Linked DNA regions of Homo sapiens: regions 2 and 3 are each linked to region 1. The links come from fine-mapping of genetic effects on gene expression. A gene starts in region 1. Each other region holds a variant in brackets. All regions are shown on one strand. Distances are between the middles of the regions.

Region 1 (5,749 bases):
ACAAAGCTCTTGGTAGCAGCAGCAAACATATTAAAATCAAAACGTCATCAACTGCAACCCCCAGATAAATCCATTTTTAAAGAGGAAAATCAGGCACAAAATTAAGCATTGCTTGTTTTTAAATATAATTATACATCTTAAAAATACAAAGCATGGTTTCACCAAGTAGTTTACCACTGTATAATTCCCTGCCTCTGCTCATGTGCTCAGGTAATGAATTATAGATCAACGGTGTAAAATGATATGCTAAGAGCATGTTTAACTTGGAATGGCAGGCTATAGCACTAAAATATACACAGAAAACTAATAACGTAAAAATATGACCAATGTCTATGATAAGGATCACAGTAGATAGTGATTTGCCACTGGCAATGGGCCAATTTTAAGGGAAGCATATAGTGCTGTGGGAAGCAATGCAATTTAGGCACTAACGATAGTCCCGGATACAATCTACAGTGGACCTAGTCCAAAGGGAATTCCTTCACAAGTCCACCACCGGAATTTTGGCAACACCAAAGTGCTGTTTTGAATCCTCATGGCATACAGCTCATTGATTGAGCATTTCATTCATTTTCCATCTTATATGCTTACAAAACTGTGTTTAATATTAAATATAAATTCACAGATATAAACAATTATATGCAAATCTTTATTTAAAAAATAAAGCCACATTACATATAAGTAACTATATAAACTATTACCTAGTGGTTTCTTACTCTGAAGTTGGGCACACAGACTCTCTCTCTTTGAAATGGAGTCCTGCTGCATCTTTTTGTTTCATTATTATCCCAGCTACTTAACCTTTAACAAGAGCTATATAAAGTTCTGGCCTGTTTTTAAGTAATTTTGTGGCAAAAAATGAATTTTACCTGAGTGCTGAAATGTTTTGCCATAGGTGTTATGCGGAGTTCATATATTGTGAAATACTGACTATGTAGCCCTTCCAATAAGATATCCATTAAAACAGTGATGGATAGTAATCTATATACATACATATATAGACGGAGAGGAAGAGAGAATAGGCTCTAATTAAAGCATCAGATGATATAATTTGATTAGATTCTGAACATCTTTCACTTGTTTCAAGCATCCAGGGCTTACATGCTAACAAAACAACAAATCGCTTTTTTTTTTTTTTTTTTTTTTGAGAGGGAGTCTGACTCTGTCGCCCAGGCTGGAGTGCAGTGGCGCGATCTCGGCTCACTGCAACATTTGCCTCCCGGGTTCAAGCGATTCTCCTGCTTTAGCCTCCCGAGTAGCTGGGATTACAGGCGCATGCCACCACGCCCGGCTAATTTTTGTATTTTTAGTAGAGACAGGGTTTCACCATGTTGGCCAGGCTGGTCTCGAACTGCTTACTTCAGGCGATCCGCCAGCCTCGGCCTCCTAAAGTGCTGGGATTACAGGCGTGAGCCACCGCGCCCGCCCATAAATCACTTTTAATAATATCCTTTCGTACGAATAGCATTGTGCAAGCAATCTTCCATAACACCGAGTAAGCACAGGGGAGCATTTCTGCTAGTGCCTAGCAAGCCCCTGGAGAAGCGACACGTCATCTAATGGCCCACCAAAGGTGCTGCATCCCAGGCAAACGCCATTACAACCGACTACCCAGGTCCCCGGAAAGGCCTTCGTTTACTCCTAACGTGTTTTGCTGGGATGCACTGACCCAGCGTTCCATCTCGCGACGAAAGCCCAGAAGACAAAGGAGCCCGCCCGGCGGGAGAGGAGCGGGTGTTTGGACGTCCCCGCGTGTTCCTAAACACAGGGCTCGGGGACCCGAAGAGCGCACCGCAGCCCCCTGGAGCGTATATATCCGGGGTCTCAAGCTTCAGGACCAGGCCCGGGAGACTCCCTGGAATTCTGCCTTCGTAATTTTAGAATCTTTTTCTTAAAGTGACCCAGCCCCCAATCCGTCCTCCCCACAAAGGCTTAACTTTAGGCCTCAACGACCCTAGACCCACGCCGGACAATCCCTCTAATCCCTCTCTCCCGGCAAGAAACGGCCTCCTGCTAAGGACAAAGAACTGCGGCCTAGGGGCCAGTTACTACAGGCTGGTCAGGGCCGGCAGGGGCGGGCGCGGAGAACCCCCGGGAGCCCAATGCCTGTGCCCACGCGGGAGCGGGGCGGAGCCGGGCGGGAAGGGGGCGGACCCTGGAAGGGACAGGGGCGGAGTTGGGCCGGGACGGAGGCCCGCAGAGGAGCAGCGAGGGGGCGTAGCCGGAGCTACGGCACCAAGGCTCCGCCCCCACCCTGCCTGCCCCCTCGCTGGAGCAACGCAAGCAGGAGGCGGGGGAGTCGGAGGAGGTGGCGGCGCTGGAGCTCCTCCCGGGGACCAGCGACCCGGGGAGCGAGCACGTCGCTCCGCACCGCTCTTCCTCCAGCCGCTGAGCCGTCCCTTCTCGCCATGTCCCAGAGCAGGCACCGCGCCGAGGCCCCGCCGCTGGAGCGCGAGGACAGTGGGACCTTCAGGTCAGCGTGCGGGCAGTCAGGGCCCCAGGGCCGGGAGCGTTGGGCGGCAGGGCCGGGGCGCGGGGAGCCGGCCCTCCAGAGGCATTCTGGGTAAAGCCGTGCCCGGCGCCCACGCCTCCGCGGCTGTGGGTGCTCGGCCCCGCCCTCTCGGCGGCGAGGGTTGGGGTCTGCGGCCGGGCCCCGCCCCTCTCGTGGTCCCTGGCGGCGCGCGGGGCGGGCGGAGGTGACGCTCGGTCGGCGCGCCCGGGAAGGGATCGTCAGGTTTTCCCTGAGAGGCTGCGGCGCTGCTGCCAGCCCTGTTCTGTTGAGAATCTCTCCTACCCGCATTCAAGTGCTCTCTCTAAAGACCTCGCTCACCCCGCCTGCTCCTGCGGAGTGACTGCCGCAGCGGGGCCGGAAGACAGGTGCGCCCCAGCCTCGCCAGCTCTGGCCCTGGCCTCCGGGGAACTCGGCGCCTCCCTCGTCACCGTCGGTGGCGGTTAAAACTGGCCTCTACGCTTCTGCTTCAATCTCCAATTTGGCATGCAAAGCACACCTTTTTGTGGTTTTTGCAGTTTGGGGAAGATGATAACAGCTAAGCCAGGGAAAACACCGATTCAGGTATTACACGAATACGGCATGAAGACCAAGAACATCCCAGTTTATGAATGTGAAAGATCTGATGTGCAAATACACGTGCCCACTTTCACCTTCAGAGTAACCGTTGGTGACATAACCTGCACAGGTCTGTATACACAGTTAACCTGGATGACCGAGTGGGTTGGCAGTCAATACTTGGTGTTGCTTTTCAGTTCGGAAAAGTTCTCTTTTTGCCAGACAGCTGTGAGGAACAGGCTCTGAAACTGAGACCTCTCATCTCAGGTCGTTAGGGCTTTTCAGCTGCATCTGATTCTCTTCCTAATTTTCTCTTCCCCACATACCAAGGAAGCTTAGAAACTAAAAAGTTACCCAGCCGGATGGCTGGATCCTGCATGGCTCTTCTCATACCCTAGGATCCTCCTAGGGTTCTTCTTAGAATTAGAGGGAAGCAGGAAAGGTTCTTGGAGCAGTCATAGCTGGGTCAGTAGGTACTGTGAAGTTTCATAGATTATAGCGGATGCCAGGAGGCATGACCCCAGAATTTTCTGAGCGTCTCTCCTCTCTGTATGGACTCATTTGGCACTTTAGGTCCATTGTGCTACTTTTGATTCTGTATCCAAACAAAATGAGGAAGGGGAGAAGGTCCTCATATATTACATAATAACTTCTAGTTTTTGAAACTGAACAGATATTTTGTATATTATCCACTTTTTAAACAAGAAGAAACAGGTTCAGAGAGATTATAAGTAACATGCGTATAGCAATGAAGTCACAAAGCAATGAAATTTTAAAGTTCATGCTTTCTTTTGGTCTGTGAGCTTGAGCAAATGATAACTAAAGTTGCTCATTTGTAAATGTGGACATTATTTTTCTTATGTATCTATTTAATTGCAAACACAGAAAACATTGGATGCTAAATTTAATTTGGAAGAATGCCAAGAAAAAAATTTAGTAGGAAGGCTCAAGTTCTACCATCTGGAAAATCTGAAGACAGCATTTGTTTGTGTCCCTGGAAGTTTGGAGTCTTTTATTTTAATTGATGCCACTTTAAGAAAAGTTTAAAACTTTTTGTGTGAGGCAGTTAGATTGTAGGTGCTGGCCGGAAGGGTCCCCATGGGAACCATAGAGTCAACACTGCATTACTTACTTTAGCTAGTCTATTTCTAGATAGGAAGAATTCAAGAAAAGGGAGGGTTTTTCCCTCTCAATGTGTTTTAGACCCCAAATTAACAACCTATGGCAACCGTTCTGCCTACGCCCTCTTCTCACACTACCATGGCTTCCTGTGCAAGCTTATCTGCCTCCATGGCTTCTGATACTGTCTAAAGACTAATATTCTGAAATGTCTGTCTACATCCCAAGCCCAGTTACAGAATAGTGTATCAGTCTGTGCTTGCTGAGCATCTTTGCCTGGATGACACAGAGGCCCCTCAAGCCTCTCATTGTCCCAAACTGAATCCATCTTTTCCCTCAAACCCATTCTTCTTGCATTCCCTTTCTATGTAAAGGCTCCACAATCACCTAGTTCAGTAGAAATGTAGGCTTTTGTCTTCCTAACTACTTCCCGTCTTTCTCCCTCTTGTCCAGTCTGTTATTAAACTCTATCCATTGGCGTTTAATAATCCACTAACTATCCATTGAATCTGTCGGCTTCTCTCTTCTGGCCATTGCTACTGCCTAGGCCACCATCATCTCTCACTTGGATTGTAGCTGCAGTCTTGTAGCTACACGTTTACCTTCTAGTCTTGTGATGTCCTTTTGTCACATTACAACCAGTGTTCATTCTTTTTTTTTTGAGACAGGGTCTCACTCTGTCACCCAGGCTAGAGTGCAGTGGCATGATCTTGGCTCACTGCAACCTCCGCTACAGCCTGCACTTAGGCTTGTTGTAACATATCCCATTCCATACTTCAGGTGCCTATTAACAGACAAAAATCCCACACTACTCTGTTGGCTCTTGAGGGCAGGGACCCTGTATGCTATATCCCTAATACCTGTGTTAGCAGATAAATATATGGTTTCTGTGTCTTCTTACACTTGAGGGCCACACTTGAAGGCCACACTTGAAACTTATTCCATGAGGGTATGGGAGTTTGAACTTAAAAGGAAAAAGATGGAATTTATCATTTGCCATTGTGATTGCTTACTGAAATTAGACATCAGTCTTATCCCCAGTCCCAACTTAGCTACCCATGCAGAAGATACAGACCGTCCAGAAGATACATAACAAGCTGTCACCTTATTCCATAAAACTCTTTCCTGTTGTACCCAACACATAATCATGACTGCTCAGCCTAGCAAAGCAGTTTGATACGTTATAGGACAGGCTGTCAGAATAAAATTATGCACATTTTGCTATCAAACAATTCTGCTGTAAATGGTTCCTTTAAAAGAAACTTCTTGCTGCAGAAGAATTTCCCCTCCAGGAATAAAGGAAGAGTAAAATACTAATCTGCATTTCTTCAGAGGTGTGACACGGTCTACTTTATTACCATGTTATATAATAAACATATATAATGTAGAAATAAGGATTTTTATGCAGGTATGCATAGAATTATATAGAACTTTAAAAAGTTATTTTTTAAAATTTTTTCACATGGTGAATATTTTATTACAGTATATAACCATGTAGTATATAACATGTACATATTTTTATGTACAGTATATAACGTACATATTTTTATTACCTAGTATGTG
Region 2 (6,581 bases), 340 kb after region 1:
CTAAGTAGCTGGGATTACAGGTGAGACCCACCACACCCAGTGAGTTCTAATTCTTACATCATACAATTCACTCATTTGATGTATTCAATTAAATCGTTTTTAGTGCCTTCACAGCATTGTGCAAGCATCATCGCAATCAATTTTAGAACATTTCATCACTCAATGACCAAATTGTTATATTTCAAATCATAAAACCTTTGAACATGAATTACATGTAACTAAAACACCTAAAAATGTCTGAGGTTTAAAAGAATGATTTTTAGTTAGTCTGCTTAATAGAAGAAACCAGGTGCTGGGCATTTGCAGATTAAATTTTTTTCAAGGCTTTAGAACATGTAGCCTATAAAGCACTGTTATTAGAATGTGCACACATGTTTGTTTCACATGAAATTCAGATTTTTTTGAAACTTTTTCTCCCTCAAATCTTTTCTTTTTAAAAATGAGAGGTGATATTGTGACTAATTTTTGAAATGCCAGGAGCAAATAGTAAATTTTTGTCATTATTTTCCAAACTGAAGTACAATGAGGCTTACTTAGTTGGTGATATTAGTCTTCATATGTTACATCAATTAACTAAAAATATTTCGCCCTATTTGCAAATTTTTTATAGGTTTTAAAACTAAGACTTATTGGTGATCAATTAGTAGCTTTCAGATTGTTGTATATGAATATGATCCAGAGTTTCCATTTGACCCATCTGTAAGGCTACTGTCTACTGATAACGTAGGCAATTACTTAGTCTGACCTGTGGCAGGCACTCAAGAAATGGTAGTCTCCTTCTTGAGTTTGCATGCCTTTGAGTTTGAGAATAATATCTAACACCTGATTTTTTTTTTCACAGTATGCCTGCTCCTTTTGATTCAACTTGATGACATACATCTTTTAAATGTGTAGATCACAGGACAAAATTCATAGATACCACTTAGAATAGTTTCATTAAAGCATCTGGTGACTGTGGCTATTTAAATTAAAATTACTTAAAATTACCTAAAATTAAAATGAATTATAATGAAAATAATTAAAAATTCATTTCTTCAGTTGAATTAGCCAGTTTCCGACAGCTCAAGAGCTATCCACAGCTACTGGACAGCGGGCACGCAGAGCCAAGCACTGCACAGCAAGTACAAGGCTTTAAGCCTCTGCGAGAGGTGAGATCCCACGGGATCTGGGGGCCAATCAGCAGTGGGACCGGGTCCCGGCTTGCCATTGGCTGGCGATCACTGGTCGCGCGCGTCCGGCTGCGCTTGCAGCCCAGGGCGTGAGGTGCTCTTTCTGGATCGCCAGCCTCGAAGTTGAGGCGTGGACTCTGGCCAGGTGGCTGTTCCAGGTGACTGCTGGGAGCGGGGGCAAAGGGAGGAACCGCTGGCCGTTTTTAATGCCAATATTAAAAAGTGTTTCATTAGCATTTCTCTTTTTATGAAAAATAAGACATAGCAATGGTATGTACCCACCTATTCCTCTTTAAGCACTCTCAGTTGGGTAAAAAGTTGTAAGCATCTGCAGTGTTACAGATATTGTGTTCAACACAGGGTTGCCAAGTCACCCTTAAAAAGTAATTGTTGGCTTGGCATGGTGGCTTACGCCTCTAATCCCAGCATTTTGGGAAGCCGTGGCAGGCGGATCACGAGGTCAGGAGTTCAAGACCAGCCTGACCAACATGGTGAAACCCCGTCTCTACTAAAAATACAAAAATTATCCAGGCATAGTGGTGCATGCCTGTAATCCTAGCTACTCAGGAGGCTGAGGCAGGAGAATCACTTGAACCCGGGAAGCGGAGGTTGCAGTGAGCCGAGATCACACCACGGCACTCCGGCCTGGGCGACAGAGTGAGACTCCGTCTCAAAAAAAAAAAAAAAAAAGAAAAAAAAAGGAATTGTTAAACCTATAAGATTATAGATTGAATATTAATTCTTCTCCACTGCTCACCAATCTGTGACCGTAAACAAGTCACTTAATTTCTGTTTGCCTCGTTTTCTACATCTATAAAAATAGAGATGTTAATGGTATCCATCTTACAGGGCTGTTGTGAGAACTAAATGAGTTAATAATATATAAAGTGCTTAGAATATGCCTGTCACATACTAAGCACATACAAATGTTTGCTACTGTTACTCTATTTAATGTTGAAATTACTTCATTCTTGGAAGAATGACCATTTTCATACTAGATGCCACATCTTTGCCTATTTCAGTGAGATATTTCTTTTGAAATATGAAATGCTGATAGAGTGCCAAATGATTATAGGACAAAATGAATTCTTTTCATATTCTTCCTGTCCTTCTTAAGATATTCTATCCCTTGCTATCCTGCTCTTCCCTTCCTGCTATTACTGAATCTGTTGGTTTTAATGCACTTGGAAGAGGGTCATAGGTATTTGCACTGGCAGTATTCGTCTATGATTAGAGAGGGCAGAAGTAAACGTTTTAATTGTGATTAATGCTGGTAGTTTTAACAGTTATAATGGAAATATGTTACACGTGACTTTAATGTGAAATCTGTAGTTTATGAGTAAGGACAGTTTTTTGTTTGTTTTTAAATGTCTGGTTTCCTGAATTACTAGCAACATTTACTTAGTATAAAAATCAATATGATTTTTCTTTTCCTTTTTTTTTTTTTTTTTTTTGAGAGAGTCTTGCTTTGTCGCCCAGGCTGGAGTGCAGTGACACGATCTCGGCTCACTGCAACCTTCGCTTCCCGGGTTCAAGTGATTCTCTCACCTCAGCCTCCTGAGTAGGTGGGACTACAGGCATGCACCACCACACCCGGCTAATTTTTGTATTTTTAGTAGAGACAAGGTTTCACCATGTTGGCCAGGCTGGTCTCGAACTCCTGACCTCAGGTGATCCAACCACCTCGGCCTCCCAAAGTGCTGGGATTACAGGTGTGAGCTACCATGCCCAGCCTCAATCTGATTTTTCTGCTTTGTATAAAAATTGGAAATAAAGATTATCTAGTTAGTGCTTAGATGACTTTTTTATGATACAAGCTTTATGGTTATGGTGAATGTATTTTGTGAAAAGGCCAAAAATGTGCTTTTGTGAGTGAAGTTTTATCCTCTATGGTCTGTGCTCAAAGGCTCACTGAATTCTGAACCTATTTAGGTAATTAATAGAACTGATAATTGAATGCAGTACTCTGAGTGATGTTTGAAGTTTTAAAGTAAGCTTCTCTTGGATAAAGTAAGTTTTCTTACCCGGCTTTCCATGAAACCTGAACTATTGGTTAATAGCTTAGTTGTTTTTGGATACTGCCTAAAGAAAACTATCTTCCCTTTACTTGGATTGTTGACACTGTTATGGGTTTCCACATAGATTTAAAGAAGTTAGGGAGAGCTGGTTTTGCAGGTTGTTGTGTATAAAGCATTGGCCTTTCTTGGAGCAGTAACTAAGAATGTTTGTGTTATTCTGCCAATATTGAAGAATACAGATTGTTTAACCACAGTATGTTAAACAATTTATGAATTGTAGTTAAACAATAGGTTTCTTCAATATTGGCAGAATAACACAAACGTTTTCTGTTTCTATTGATAGATCAATATGTGCTTAGGACTCTACTCTCAAAGAATTTGGTATTTTCATGATGTCTGTAGTAGTAATTCTTTGTGTTCAAATCCATCCCAAACCCCATCTCCCTTGCACTCATTCTTCACAGAACACAAAAACAGAAAAATAGAACCCAGACAGCATATTCCTTACTATATTAAAGTACACTTTTTTTTTTTTGGACAGAAACCGCAAGTGTTTATTGCAGAAATCTGGCCAAGGTCCCAGTTGGCTGGGCAGGTGAGATAGGGAGGGGTGGAGGAAGTGATCTGGCCCAGGGGCTCAGAGCTGTGAGGTGATA[T/C]TGGGTGCCAGGCTGCAGGTGAGACCTATGCCATCAGGTTCCACATTCAGGGCCTTCATTATGCCATCCTGTACCACCATGGAGAACCTCCTGAGACATCGATAAAGTACAATTTTTTGATAGTTTGAACTTATTTTAATTTTTACATCATTTTAGATGGAGGAGGCATTTATTTAGTTATAGAATTTTTAACAGTCTCAACCAAAATATCTTTGTAAAAAATTTATTTTATATGTCTACCATCATACAGTAAGGTTTTTGTTTTTGTTTTTGTTTTTTGAGAGGGAGTCTCTCTCTGTCACCCAGGCTGGAGTGCAGTGGCGCAATCTCAGCTTACTGCAACCTCCGCCTCCCAGGTTCAAGCAATTCTCTGCTTCAACCTCCCGAGTAGCTGGGATTACAGGCGTCCGCCACCACACCCGGCTAATTTTTGTATTTTTAGTAGAGATGGGGTTTCACCATCTTGGCCGGGCTGATCTCGAACTCCTGACCTTGTGATTTGCCCGCCTTGGCCTCCCAAAGTGCTGGGATTACAGACATGAGCCACCGCACCCAACCCAGTAGGGTCTTTACTACTTAAAACTGTGTATTTTCCACTACATTAGTATTAAATGCATACTATTGCTGACTGAATTCAATAATGTTATTTCTGATTGCTTTCAGATAATGCTTGATCTAATCTGGTATCTATAGCTAAGAATGTAAAGTAAATGAGAAATTATGTTACATACAGGTTTCTATGGCTGCATTCTTTTCTGTATAATTTTTATTTTTACAGTTTGATTATTGTAGACATATAAATACTCATAGTAATATCATAGTTAAACACCTTTCCTATTTGTTCTATTCTTATTTTTAAATAAGGGGTTGCAAAATTAGACCTATATGTTTTACATCATCTTTTGCACATGCACTTTTTAGAAATGAAAAGGAATATAATTGACCTGGATAAATTAATATAATTCTTTGAAGGCTGAAGTAAAACCCGTTTGATACCAATAGCAGTTTCTGAAGTAGCTATGGCTAGAAACTTAAAATAAGCCTAATTAATGAGATGATTGTCTTTATGAAATTGGATGTTATAATATATCTGTGTTTTTGAGCACTCATACATTAAAGCTTGCATGCTTTAAAGGATATGTTTTTGTTTAACATCATCAGCATTCACTTCAGTCAAAATGATGGAATTCTTTTTTCTCCCCGGCTTTGAAAATCTAATATATATATTTTTTTGGTTTGTGGTTTTAATGTTCCATTGCAGAGCAACATGGGAGATGCTGAAGCAGGCAAGAAGACCTTTATTCAGAAATGTGCTCAGTGCCACACAGTGGAAAAAGGTGAAAATCACAAGACTGGTCCAAATCTCTGGGGCCTCTTTGGCTGAAAAACAGGAAAAGCACCAGGATTTTCTTATACAGAGGCAAACAAAAACAAAGGTAAAAACTAGCAGTTGTGGGAGAGAACCAGATACACTGTAGGAAAGAATAAAGCATATGATTTGGCATTATAATAATTTCCTAATTTGCAGCGTTAAAAATGGACCACTCTTTACATATTACTGAAATATGGATTTATATCATAAGACCTGCATTTGGATAACTGATCATCCTTTTAATCAGAAGAATTAAGAATCTTGTATGGCATAGGTTTTTGCCTATACAGGGTATTTGATTTTAGGTAATACATTTTTCTTGAAAAAGTATAAGCTAGATTTTTAAAAAATCATATTTTAGTGGTATAATGGCAGTAGTGATTCTATTTGTAGTATTGATTTTAGCAGAGTGGGAGAAATACTATATAGTTTGAAGCGTATATTCAGCATGTTTTTTTGTTTGTGGGAAGAGGGTAAAGTGAGACAGTATCTTAGGGTTAAGATCGAAGTGGTTGGAAAAGACTACACTATCTTTGCAAAGCAATTTGTCATTCCTGGATTAATCATATGGAGATTTATATGTGTACATCTATCTATCTATCTATCTGTCTAAGAATGGAAATTATAATATGATAATCCTGTTAAATATATATATGGTTTTATATATATATATCAGCTTTTTTGAGATTATATATATATATCACCTTTTTTCAAAATAGGGTATAACTCTATTTGAAACTTTTCTTGGGGCCTAGCATATCTTATAGGTTGGCATTTCAAGTCACTACTATTTGAAAAGGATTTTATTTTATTTTTTATTTCTTTTTATTATTTTTATTGAAGTGAAATTTATATAACATAATTAGACATTTTAAAGTGTACAATTCCGTAGCATTTAGTGCATTCATAATGCTGTAAAATCACCGCCTTTCCCTATTTTCAAAACTTTTTTATCACTCCAGAACAACTGCATCCATTAGGTAATCACTCTGCATTCCCCCTTAACCCTATTCCCTGGCAACCACTAATCTGCATTCTGTCTCTTTGGATTTGCCTATTGGATCATATAAAAGGAATCATATAATATGTGACCCTTTGTGTCTGACTTCTTTCACTTAGCATAATGTTTTCAAGGCCCATCTAAATTGTAGCATGTATCAGTACTTCATTCCTTCCCCCCCCACTGGAAATGTATATTTAACAACAACAACAACAAAATTACAACAAACAACCTGGAATACAACAGGTGGTACTGAGAAACTAAGTCTAATAATTTTTTATGGCAATCAACACTTCTTGTGATGCTTTTCATTCCTTTTTATGGGTGAAATTCTAGTTATGACCTCTAGCTACATAATTCCAATCT
Region 3 (6,581 bases), 150 kb after region 1:
CTCCTCTTGCATTTTCTTTGTTTTAAAGCAGATTATAACGCTATATTTGAGACCCTGATGCTAAAGACGCCAGATTCTCCTCCGGAAACGTAATCTCTCCTACCCAATGGACTAGAATAAGAGCTCGGTCCATGTTTGTCTTCAGTTTAGTTTAGCTATGTCATGTATGTGACGGTTAATCCAACACAAAGTAGTCAGTTACAAAAGAGTTAACACATTGTGTGCATCCTGTGATCCAGCATTTGTGAAGGATCCAGGAATACATATATCCACATTTATTTGTACCTCAAAACTACAGCATGCCTACATGTGACTCTCAACAACCAACATGCTCGCAAACATCTACAGATTGACAGGTTATCTTAGAGCAGGGGTAAATGGAGTTCCTTCACTTATGCACAGCCAACAGCCACTTCAATTTTTTTACTTGGATTCATGTAAGGAAGGTTTGCATTGTTAGTATTAAGGTTAAAGCTTGTGTCAGAGAGAAGCTCTTAAATTGGCCTTGTCTCCAACACAGCTATGCTAAAAAATGTTAAAAGGTAAGCACTATGGTATAACATTAAAAGCTTAAAAAATGATATTTCCCAAAAGATAGACAATTAAAGTGAACTTTATCCTCTTACAAGAAGAAGGTCACATTCTAGCCCCCATCTTAATGCTAATATCTTCTTGGAGGAAGTACAGAACACCAGAACACTTGTGTAGGCTTGTTAGCACAGGCTGGGAAGGAAAGCTGCTAGCAGGAAACAGAAATCAATTTTTAGGCCACAAAAAAGTGAGACCTGAACTTCAGTCCAGAGGGTGAGACACTGAATCAGATAAACAAAAAAAGATGGAGATATATGGGCATTATGAAGACAGTGACTGAGGTGAACTAATGGATCTGGGAGTTAGAGCTGAGGTCCAAAGAATGAGCGGTTTACTAAGTACCAGGGTGTCTGGCGTGACATGATCAACAGATGAGTGGTAGCCAATATGACTAGAGTCAGAGATATGGCGATATGGTGGTCAAAGAAATGCAGAGACCAGTCCCTGCAGGACCTTGTAGGCCATGACAGTTGCTATGGTCTGAATATGTGCACCAAAATTCATGTGTTAGAAACCTAACCCCAACGCAACAGTATTGGGAAGTGAGGCCTAATGGGAGGTGTTTAGGTCATGAGGGTGGAGCCCTTGTGACTAGGTTAGTGCCACTATATAAACAGCTTGTGATATGGTTTGGTTGTGTTCCCACCCACATCTCATCCTGAATTGTAGTTCCCATAATCCCCATATGTCATGGGAGGAACCAGATGAGAAGTAATTTGATCTTGGGGGCGGTTACCCTCATCCTGTCCTCATGAGAGGTCAGACCTGATGGTTTTGTAAGGGGCTTTCTCCTCTTTTGTTTGGCATTTCTCCTCGCTGCTGACATGTGAAGAAGGAAGTGTTTGCTTCCCCTTCTGCCATGATTATAAGTTTCCTAAGGCCTCCCCAGCCATGCAGAACCGTGAGTCAATTAAACCTCTTTCCTTTATAAATTAGGTGCTCTTGGGTATGTCTTTATTAGCAGCATGAGAATTGACTGATACAGCTTGTGGGAGTGGGTTCTCTCTCTTCTGCTTTCCTGCCATATGACGACATGAGGTTCCTCCTCTCCAGAGGATGCAGCATTTGAAGTGCCTCTTGGGAGCAGAGAGACAGGGCCCTAACCTGCTGGTGCCTTGATTTCCCAGCCTTCGGAACTGTGAGAAAGAAATTTATGTTCTTTATAACTTACCCAGTCTTGGGTATTCTGTTATAGAAGCACAAGTGGACTAAGACATTGGCATTTTGATTTTTATCATAAGCATGAGAAGCCATCGAGACGTAACCAGATTTGTGTTACTAAAGGGTGATTTTGGCAGCTGTGGGGAGACTCCAAGTGGGGAAGTAAAGAAGATGAGGAGGGCCCAATCAGGACTCAGGAGAGGATGGGAGAGTGCTGGCAGAAATTCCAACATTGAGTCCTGTGTCCTGTGACTGGACATGGTCGGGGAGGCAGGGTTGAGGCTAAATCTCAGGTCTCTGGCATTCTGAGCAAGAAATGGTCAAAGGAAATCCAAGATCCATGGGAAAGTCATGACTGTGGTTAGAGACATTGCTGAAGACATTCAGTTGGAGACAAACTCTTGGAAATGTAGGTCTGGAGCTCAGGGAAATCTAGGCTGGAGATGTAAATGTTTAATAGACTATGGTAATGATACAGATATATTAATCAGATCCTTTAAGATCATGTAAATTTCATATGTGCCAGTAAATGAAATTTTATATGGTCCTATAGTTATATTTTTAATAATGGATTATGTCACCCTGAATGTGTTATTCAGGATTTTAATGGTCACCTGTTTATAGAGAATACCTAAAAGAACAATCCCAATAATTACAGGGGGAATTTTTGTAAACTGTGAAAACTGGACATTCTAGTGAATAGAACTTGTAATCCAGTCTTAAAATTTCAACTTCACTGTCACCGCAGGAAAAATGAAAGCTACTTTCCCTCCAAACTGGGAGACTTTCTCTTGAAACAAAACTAGCCTTTGGACAAACAGAAATGGAAAGCGCTGTATATCTCTTCTGTGAGCTAGAGATAGTTTCATTCATTATTGGCAAAAGGTAGTAATAAACCTCCACTTGACAGATGATCATCTAATCTTTTTGTTTTATGAAGGCATTCTAATAAGTGAGTGAAGTTTCTGATTCCAAGCTGTGGTGCCAGCAAACAGAATGCACAGACACTGCTCGGATCCTTGATTTGAAGTACTTAGTTTTCTGGTCCCAGATGTTTTACAAGTAGATACTGACTCTTGAGCCAAAAAGGAGGTACTTTTGTGATGCGTTCAAGTGCTTCCAAGGGATGAGGTTGTAACAACCTAACTCATTAAACTGAAATCCATTTGGAAGTAAATTCAATCCAAGGTATATTTCCTCTGCTGGATTTTTTCATTTAAAAAACTGTACTTTTTTCATTAACATCAATGCTAACACCTTGATTTTTGTTTTAATTTAAAATGGCATTTTCAGGATAACTTGTTTATGATAAAAGGGCAACATTTCAGTTGAACTACAGTTTAAATATGTTGAATAATAGCAAAATGAAGAAAAAGTAAGAGAACTTAATTCATTCCAAGAATTGTTTTTGAGGTTATTGTTGTTGTTTCTATTAATTTTTGTTATTTTTTTTAACAGAAAGGGTTTCAAGTACTTAATATAAAGTTGAATGAGATGCCCTTTAAAGATTATTCCAACCAATTTTCAATCAAGTGTTTGACCACCTGCTCTTTTTCAAATGCATTATAAAAGTAAGTCTAAACTCTGAGAGAAGGTTATTCTTTAGAGTGTAGGAACTGCTATAACATAAAAAAAAGTCATCTCTACGAAAGAACATTTTCAGAAATTGCCTAAACAATATTCTAAACCAAAGAAAGGCCATAAATTTTAAAGTCAACACAACACCAACATAATTACTATACTCAATGAGAAACGTATTGTGACTGAAAATAACAGCAATATGAGAGAGCTGAACATCTAATTTTTCTGTCTCATTCTTCCTTTGTAACAGTGGGAACACTACAAGTATTGCTAAGTGCTGTAACATTTGCATTTTCATTGAGTGGCATAAATCTCAGATTTATGACCCAGGGACCTAATTAAAGCAAAAGCTGGTAGGGAAGACTTC[T/A]AGAACTTGCTGTTCAAAGGCATCATAAATTGTATGTGTCCAGAAAAACACTTAAGATTGGGGACCACTTGCCCTGGGCTAAGTTGCAATGAGTCACAACCAAGCCCCAAATGTCTTTCTCACAGTCCTGAAGGCTGATAAATCAAGGCACCAGTAGGTTAGGGCCCCGTCTCTCTGCTTCCAAGAGGCTTACAAGAAAGGTTTATTTTTAGCTCATTTACATGTCCTTTAGGTCAGCTGCAGACCTACCTTGAGTGCTCTTCATTCCAGGCTTAACAAACAGCCCCCAGGAGAGGCAGGGCAAAGAGCCATTGCAGAACCATGGGATGGTTCTTAGAGCTTTTGCTTGTAGGTGGTACAGGTTAGCTCACTCACGTTTTATTGGCCAAAACGAGTCACATGGCCTAGGTGAGTCAATGATGCATGAAACTATAGTTCTCCCAGTAGGCGAGGCAGTAGATATTTGGGTATAATGATAATTTACTATATAAACTATAGGAAAAGATTAAAAGTACAGTTGAAAATATTTAAATTGACTCCAGTTACATCACTGAGAGATAACCCTTGTTAACATTTTTGGTTCTACTTTAATCAAAGTAGAAGCATAATATTCACACTATCTGCAGTATGGTTTTTTGATCAACAATATATCACTAATGGCTTTTTTGATAAACAAAGAAACTTCAACAATACCATTCTTAACCATTACAAATAAGACTACCACACAGATATACCACAATACATTTAACCATTCTTCTTTTGGGACGTTTAGGTTGTACTCAGTATATTTTGGAACAATGAGATTTATCACAAAAGAGTCTGTAATAGTTATACATTTAGTCTTGATCATTATAAAAATGACCCTTTTCATTCCTTTTAACACTTTTTGTTTTGCTTTATCTGATATCATCTCTTCCCTTTCTGCTTGCAAGTGATTAAATAAACTTTGTCCATCCTTCCCATTTAAACTTCCTGTATATTTTATATTATGTGTCCCTCTAGTAATGATCAGGTTGAATTGTTCAAAAAATCTAATTTTAGTGAAGTATTTCCAATTTCTATTTAATGTTTTAACTAATAATTGATCTTACCCCTGCCATATCATTTTGTACTTTCTATTTTTTTGGTTCTTCTTTGTTTCCTTTAATGCTTGATGGCTTTGCTTGGTAATCTGGCTTTTGCAGCATACTGACTTTCATATGGTTTTAATAGCCTTTTATATTTGACAATAATTTGAAAGATATAATTCTCCTTTTAAAGTTCTATTTCCATTTCCCTTTACATTTCTCTAAATCACGCTGGAATCTACAGTCTGTAAGTGACAGTTAAGAGTAAAATGGGACTGGGTGTGGTAGCTCATGCCTGTAATCCCAGCATTTGGGAGGATAAGTAGGATCACTTGAGGCCAGTAGTTCAAGACCAGCCTGGCCAACATGGCGAAACCCTGTCTCTACTAAAACTACACAAATTAGCTGGGCATGGTGACACACGCCTGTGATCCCGGCTATTCGGGAGGCTGAGGCACAAGAATCACTTGAACCCAGGAGGTAGAGGTTGCAGTGACCTGAGATCATACCACTGCACTCCCACCTAGGTGACAGAGCGAGACCCTGTCCCCGCTGCCCCCGCTGTAAACAGACAAAAAAAGCAGACCTTCATCCTGCCTCCCTTACCCTCTCTATGGCAGATACATCTGACAGCAATAAGTTAAGCACACCCTGAGAGTGACCCTATGGTCTAAGAAGAATGTGTGTCCACAGTCCCAAGCAAAGGAATAATGGAGTGATCCACCTGGAGTGTCACTCCTTGTCTATGAGGAACATCTGAACCCCCTGCCCATCCCTTGGAACGCTGCCACTTTTTCTAATTGGGACCTACAGGGATCTCAAAGTGTGAGGACAAATTGTAAGAAAAGCCAACTCCTTTTCTGTAAGTGAAGATAAGGTTTGTCATAATCAAAACTTGGCTAGATTTTCCTCAATTTGAGATATATAGCTTTCATAAAATTAGGGTTTAGTCCTCTATAGTTTGACATTGTATTATTCTGTTTGAAGCTAGTGTTTGGGTTATTGACAGTTTGTCTTTTTAAATATTTGCGTAACTATTTACAGAGAATTTGGAGGAACCTCATTAGAAAATCCTAGATGCAAGTTTCCTGATTTCAACTCATCAAGCCTCTAATCTCTCTCCACTCTTCTTAGGCCCCTTACTAAGTAAATGAATAAGACAAACCCTCATCCTTGATGTGGACAGCCATCAAACCTGATGGGTGGGAAAAGGGAAAAGAAAGAATGAAGAAGGAATCATATCTTTTACTTTGTTTAGCTCTACATCTGAATTTTGTATCTGAAGTAAGTTTTACAGTGAACTAAATATTGTAAAACACTTATTACTCTCATATTGACACAATTTAATGTAATCGTTACCAAAATCATAACAGGATTTTTAATGACTTGGCAATATTATTTTAAAGTTCATCTGGGCTACTCTGGATGCACTGCTTATGGGTTAACTTTGCTCCACAAGGAGCGAAAGAAAGAATAGAAAGAAACAAAACAAAGAAAGGAAGGAAGGAAAGAAAGAAAAAAAGTAAGTTCATCTGGAAGAGTAAACATATGAGAATAACAAAGAATATTCTAAAAAATAATGAAAGATACTTTACTTATCACACACTAAAGCTATTTAACAGCTTCCCTGGTTAATAGTAGTAGTACAGGGCCAGGAAAAGCAAATGGAACAGACAAGAATTCTAGAAACTAGTCTATGCAACGACAAAAAGGATCTTAAAAATATCAGTAAGAATATTATTCAGTGCAAAAAAGATATGAGCTATCAAGGCCATGAAAAGACATGGAAAAACCTTAAATGCATAGTAAGTGAT

What was found. PIP is the estimated chance that this variant, and not a neighbour inherited with it, causes the effect.
Region 2: its variant is the best candidate, but not a certain one, in a credible set for the expression of PRKRA in whole blood (INTERVAL, PIP 0.58).
Region 3: its variant is the best candidate, but not a certain one, in a credible set for the expression of PRKRA in whole blood (TOPMed, PIP 0.61).

Annotation. Positions count from the first base shown.
Region 1 is chr2:178,447,690-178,453,438 of GRCh38, reverse strand. PRKRA (protein activator of interferon induced protein kinase EIF2AK2) reads left to right here and starts at 2,264. Exons shown (of 8, transcript NM_003690.5): 1 at 2,264-2,473; 2 at 3,028-3,197. The coding sequence starts at 2,409. PJVK (pejvakin) reads right to left here and starts at 2,061. Exons shown (of 7, transcript NM_001042702.5): 1 at 1,670-2,061; 2 at 1-51. The coding sequence starts at 29. RefSeq lists a silencer at 1,992-2,771 and an enhancer at 2,534-3,108.
Region 2 is chr2:178,103,000-178,109,580 of GRCh38, reverse strand. It overlaps a transcript of PDE11A not described here and the pseudogene CYCTP. Among named protein-coding and RNA genes, the nearest start is that of RBM45, 6.1 kb to the left of the region's middle. The variant T/C (reference allele first, on the strand shown) is at 3,844.
Region 3 is chr2:178,299,215-178,305,795 of GRCh38, reverse strand. The region is part of intron 2 of OSBPL6 (oxysterol binding protein like 6); the gene reads right to left. Among named protein-coding and RNA genes, the nearest start is that of OSBPL6, 110 kb to the right of the region's middle. The variant T/A (reference allele first, on the strand shown) is at 3,701.